Linked DNA regions of Homo sapiens: region 1 is linked to region 2. A link means that fine-mapping ties the variant in region 2 to the expression of a gene that starts in the linked region. Tissue or cell type: whole blood. Region 2 holds a variant in brackets; the other region holds the start of a gene. All regions are shown on one strand. Distances are from middle to middle.

Evidence for each region. PIP is the estimated chance that this variant, and not a neighbour inherited with it, causes the effect.
Region 1: CORIN starts here. The variant in region 2 is fine-mapped to the expression of CORIN in whole blood (TOPMed, PIP above 0.99).

Annotation. Positions count from the first base shown.
Region 1 is chr4:47,836,576-47,839,262 of GRCh38, reverse strand. It overlaps CORIN (corin, serine peptidase), which reads left to right and starts at 1,196. Exons shown (of 22, transcript NM_006587.4): 1 at 1,196-1,376. The coding sequence starts at 1,314. The region is part of intron 1 of LOC101927179 (a long non-coding RNA gene); the gene reads right to left.
Region 2 is chr4:47,953,850-47,956,536 of GRCh38, reverse strand. The region is part of intron 3 of CNGA1 (cyclic nucleotide gated channel subunit alpha 1); the gene reads left to right. The region is part of intron 1 of LOC101927157 (a long non-coding RNA gene); the gene reads right to left. Among named protein-coding and RNA genes, the nearest start is that of NFXL1, 41 kb to the right of the region's middle. The variant T/A (reference allele first, on the strand shown) is at 1,456.

The sequences.
Region 1 (2,687 bases), 120 kb after region 2:
GCTTTCTTATCTCTAAAATAAAAATAATAGCTTCTTCCTCAGAGTAGTTGGTGGAACTGAAAGAATACATGTAAAGTGCTTAGTATGACACCTGCCACATAATATGAACTGAATTATTGTGAATTATGATAAATTTGTCAGATACTGGTTTACAAATCGGATGTTAGAATAACATGGAATCAGTGTTTCAGTCATTTTACTATACATATGCAATATTTTCTACATTTGATCTCACTTCAGAAACAAAATACTGCCCCCCCCATTTTACAAATGCATATTTTTTTCTCAGCAATAATGTTCAAGAACAAGTGCTTGGCCCATATTTTGTTGTCTTTACATGGCTTTCTTTAAATAATGGGGATGGATTTATTAAATAACCTCATGAGTAATTTTCAAAATTTCCATTAAGATCTTGATTGAAATTGGATGAAAAATCATTTCTAAGAAAAACCCAATGAAGTGTTTTTCTTTGCCACATTTGACAATTGCCTTGGACTTGGTAAAGTAATCATTACTGTGTTGAGTACCTCCAGTGCCCTCCTTGACGCTGCCTTAGAAAAGGTAGCTGCTTTTGAATGACAGGCAGGAATTTGTTCGCCTTTTAGGTTCAGCCTGTAGGTGCCCTCTGCAGGAAATCAGGAACTAGGGTTTTGGAAGCAGTCAGGGTGGGGTTCTCCCTTGTCCCTGCAGCCTCAGCAAAGACTCAGGCAGTCTGGCAAAAGCAGTTTCTTCAGCATACCTAACAGAACGCAAGTTTCCATATGCCTGATGCAAATAATGGCCTCCAAACGTTAAACCTTTTTTGAGATAAACTTGTTCTTTAATTGCCAGCGCCTGCAGTTAATTTTGATTGGCTACACTCTGGTTAAAAGAAAATGCTTTCGATGTGATATGGCAAATTTGGAGAAAAGTAACTCTTTTGCTCCCAACCAGTCTTCCACAACTTAAACTTAATCGTCCTGTCCTTTTCTGCTGCCCTCGTGGAGTGTAAGTTTTTGAGGGAGACCAGCAGAAACTGACTTTCCATATGCCCCTGAAGAATAACTTCTTTGAATGCAAAGAGGTGGGGACACGGAGGATCTGTCATTACGGGTTATTATGGGTGGGACCCAGAGACGGGAGTGAAGGGAGGGTGTGGCCCGCGGGTGGGATCTGTAGAGCAGACAAAATATGGGGCCCCTGGCGCTTAAAGTTCAGTTTGTCTCTCTTGAGCTTGGAGAAAATCATCCGTAGTGCCTCCCCGGGGGACACGTAGAGGAGAGAAAAGCGACCAAGATAAAAGTGGACAGAAGAATAAGCGAGACTTTTTATCCATGAAACAGTCTCCTGCCCTCGCTCCGGAAGAGCGCTGCCGCAGAGCCGGGTCCCCAAAGCCGGTAAGATCGATGATTCGCTGTCCTACCGCAGCCAGGTGTGATGGCCTCTTAGTCCCGGTGAATTCAGGGTCAGCCCCTCCCGCCCCCGTCCTCTCCTCCGCCCGATGCCACCTCCTTCCCCAGCCGCCGGTGAGCTCCCGCTCTGACAGTTCCGCGCTCAGCGCCCTGCACCCAGTTCCCAGGCGCACGGCCCTGGTCCCGACCACCACCCCGGTCGCCCGGCGTCCGAGACCCTCCCAGGGTCATGGGCAGGGTTTCCTTCAGTGTTCGAGTCGGCTCGATCCGGAGACCCCGGTCTCCATGCCGGGGGTGATGCCACCTTTCCTGCAGAGTCCCTCCTCCGCACGGTGCCCTCCAAGCATCTAGTGGACTTGGCTGCACACTGGCGGCAGGGGAGGCTGCAGGTGGAGCTGTCGGAGCCAGCCCCTCGGGGATCTACAGCTTCCTGTCTGCGCCGGCGTCTCGGGCGCCGGGTGGCTGGAGGGACTGTGCAGCAGTCTTGCCTGCCCCAGACGTAAGCCCCCTTCCCCAGCTGCGAGCGCCTGGGTGTCGGTCCCTCCACAGCCCGGGCTCGCGCTTGGTTCCCCGGCCCCCAGTTGGTGCCTGGGGATCACTCGCCCGTCCTAAGTGCTGGCATCCCAGAACTGGCCCTCTTGCAGAGTGCTGGGAACTTGTAGGTCCCTGCGTGCAAACTTTCTCCGGCGTGAACCTGCCTAGGCACAGGAGGGCTGGCCGCCGGGGGCGCAGGCTCTGCGCTGTAGGATTTGGTTGGCTCAGATCCAGTCCTGGGAAGGGGCAGCGTTGGCTCTCGTTCAGGAGGAGAAAGAAAGGGAAGGGCACCACGGACAGTCCCTACTGGCCTGAGCCCCCAGGAAGAAGGTCTAATTTGCGGCTGCCCCTCTCCTTCGGTGTCATTAGGGCCCCGGAATCCGCTTGCTACCGCGAGGGTCCCAGCTGCTCCGAATCGGGGACCGACCGGTGACGCTAGCTGCAGGCAGAGAGGGCAGGCTGTGCGGGCGGAAGGGAGGTGGTGTCTTGTCGGATCTTACTGGGACCCAGTTCCTGAGCTCCCGTGGCAGGCGCCTCACTCCTGCTACTACCTGCTCGGGGCCAGTGGATGGCAGTGTACGCGCTTTTTGCACGGCTCCCGGTTCCTGGGACCGAGCCCTGGGAGCTCTGACTTTGAATTCAGCAGGGAAGCTTCGGGGCTGGGCATTCCCAGGGAAGCTGTTCGAGTAATTCATAAAGTGGAGCTTTCCTCCCGCGGGAAACTTCTGAGAACGATGCGCTGCGAAGACGGACTCCTGTACA
Region 2 (2,687 bases):
AGAAGGGCTGGGGCTCTAGGCTGAACCATAGGCATAACCCCAGAACAATATGCCAGAATTAGCCAGCAGGGAAGTTTCTTCCTCTCTTGTAACCTGAAAGTGGGCAGTGAGGAAGCTCCCACTGGAACTGTTTATTCAAGAACGCACTTCCTTAGATGGGAGCCACTTCCACTGCACCTGGCACAACAGTCACCCTACTCCTGCTAGATGCATTCCAGCATAAACTGGATGCCCTTCCTTTGGCACCAGGAAAGCTAGTAACCAGACGGGGATAGCCGCCTCAGAATATCCAACGTGTCCCTGCCCATTCTTGCTGGCAGCCATAGCAGAAATGGAAGATCCATTGTCTTCACCTCACTTCTACCTTCCAAATCTCATACAAATGCATTTAATTGACTAAACCTAAGTGCCGCAAATGCCATCCAGAATCTGAGCTGCAAAGCAGACTCAGTAATGTAGATTTTTAGCTCTTTCAGTTTTTGCAGATCATGAAAGCACACTAGAAGGAGAGAAGAATGGGTTATGTGGGCCAATTCACCATATCTGTCGCCCTAAGAACCATTTCAAAGTCGTTGTAAATTTAGTGAGTTTTCATAACTTCTAATGAAATGTCTCATGAGTATAGCTTTTTAAAACACAAAACTATATTTGTTCATGCCATAAGCATTTCTTGAGTACCTATCATGTGCAAGCACTGCTGTGGTTACAAAAGTCTCCCTTCCAGAGGAGGTTGTAGCCTTGTGAAGATGGTGTGTGTCACAATTTAGCAAGTGGAAAACAATTGAAATATGTACAAAATGCAGTGGCAGAGAAGAGAAGGAAGCAATTACCTAGGTCAAGGGCGAGGAGTCAGTGGCCTGGACTTGAGCAATGGATAACACCTATTTGGACTCAAGAGAAGTGGACTTTTGAAGCCCAAGGAGAGCATATGCAAAGGCACAGAGGTGTGAAACAGCATGGCTCAGGCAGGGAACTGCAGCTGGAACACCACTTTGTACCTTAGTAATAATCTGTTCTCATAGCATAGACCAATCATTAAAAAAATTGTTATATGGGCCAGGCGCGGTGGCTCACGCCTGTAATCCCAGCACTTTGAGAGGCTGAAGGGGGCGGATCACCTGAGGTCAGGAGTTGGAGACCAGCCTGACCAACATGGCGAAACCCTGTCTCTAGTAAAAATACAAAAATTAGCCAGGCGTGGTGGTGGGCGCCTGTAATCCCAGCTACTTGGGAGGCTGAGACAGGAGAACAGCTCAAAACCAGGAGGCAGAGGTTGCAGTGAGCTGATATCGCACCACTGCACTCCAGCCTAGGTGATAGAGTGAGACTCTGTCTCAAAAAAAAAAAAAAAAAAAAAAAAAAAGAAAAGAAAAAAGAGACAGAGAAAAAGAAATTTTATTGGATTCCAAGAATTCATATCCTAATTGAGTCACTGAGGCATGTACACAAAACTGT[T/A]AAGTAACAAAATTAGGAAAAAGTGATACTAAAATATTTAACAACTATTACAGTCGTGAGCACTTAACTATCAGAAAAGGATAGTTATAAAGGATGGTTATAAACAACTGGTCTAGCTATATCGGTGAGTACCTTTACATAGCAGCCCTGTTTGAATATAGCCTAAAGGTCCCTGGGCCCATGGAGTCTTTGGATCCAAATAAATTTGCATAGTCATCAACGGCACAGAATTTCAGCTCCACCTACACCCAGAGGGCCTTCAGCTTTACCCCCCCTTCAAAAAGGCTCGTAAGGTTTTCCAGGGAATCCCTGAAGGGGTGCCTCACATGTGCACGTTTTGAACAGAAGTATGTTCTTTAAGTGGCTGGCTCTTTTAAGGGCAGGTATCAAACTCCACGCCTAGGTGATCAAGGCCAGTAGGGAATTAGGAGGAGGAACATTCACCACTCTGCAGTCAGAACCATTCTGGCACCGAGTATTGGAAGCCATGGAAGATGCAGGCGATGTCATCTTTCATGTGGTTATAAAATGGGAAGGTTTTCTGATTCCCCTTGCAGGACGTGCGGCAGGGGTGTGGCTCACCTGTTTGGTCCCCTCCCCCGCCGCTGCTCAAACCCCTGAGGGAAGGGGGAGCACGCAGACGGAAAGGTGCCAGAGCCCAAGTGGGCATGTGTTATAGTGAGCTCCTTTAGCCTTGCTGTCCGGGGACAGCTGAGTGTTAACCTCCCCACCTCCATTCTTTTCCAGAGTACTGGACAAATCAGGTCATATGAACTGTTTGAAAGGTAATGAATGCTGAGACTTTGTTGAACAGTGGAGGTGACTTTCAGCGGGATGGGGAGCTGGAATTCCGGGAAGGTGGAGGGGTGTGGGGATAATCTTCCCCTGGAGTTCCGCCGTTCTGGACGCAACTCCTCTTGATGTTCAGACGCCTCTTCCCTCCTTCTCTGCCGTGCTGCTCTGCTGCTCTCCACCACTCTCTGCCGCTCTCTGCTATTCTCTGCCACTCTGTTCCTCTCGACATTCAGCCGCTTGTGTGTGTGCCCGCTAAGGTCTCAGGTTTATATGGGCACAGGATGGGGGGGACGTGACAGCTAGAGTGGTCTCAGAAAATGCAACATTGAGGCGAAAACAGGAGTGCCTGTTTTCACTTAGGTCCGAGGGCATAAGGTCCGAGGGCATAAGGCCCGAGTGTGGAGCCCTCGCCGGGGACCCCACTCTTCTCTACCCAG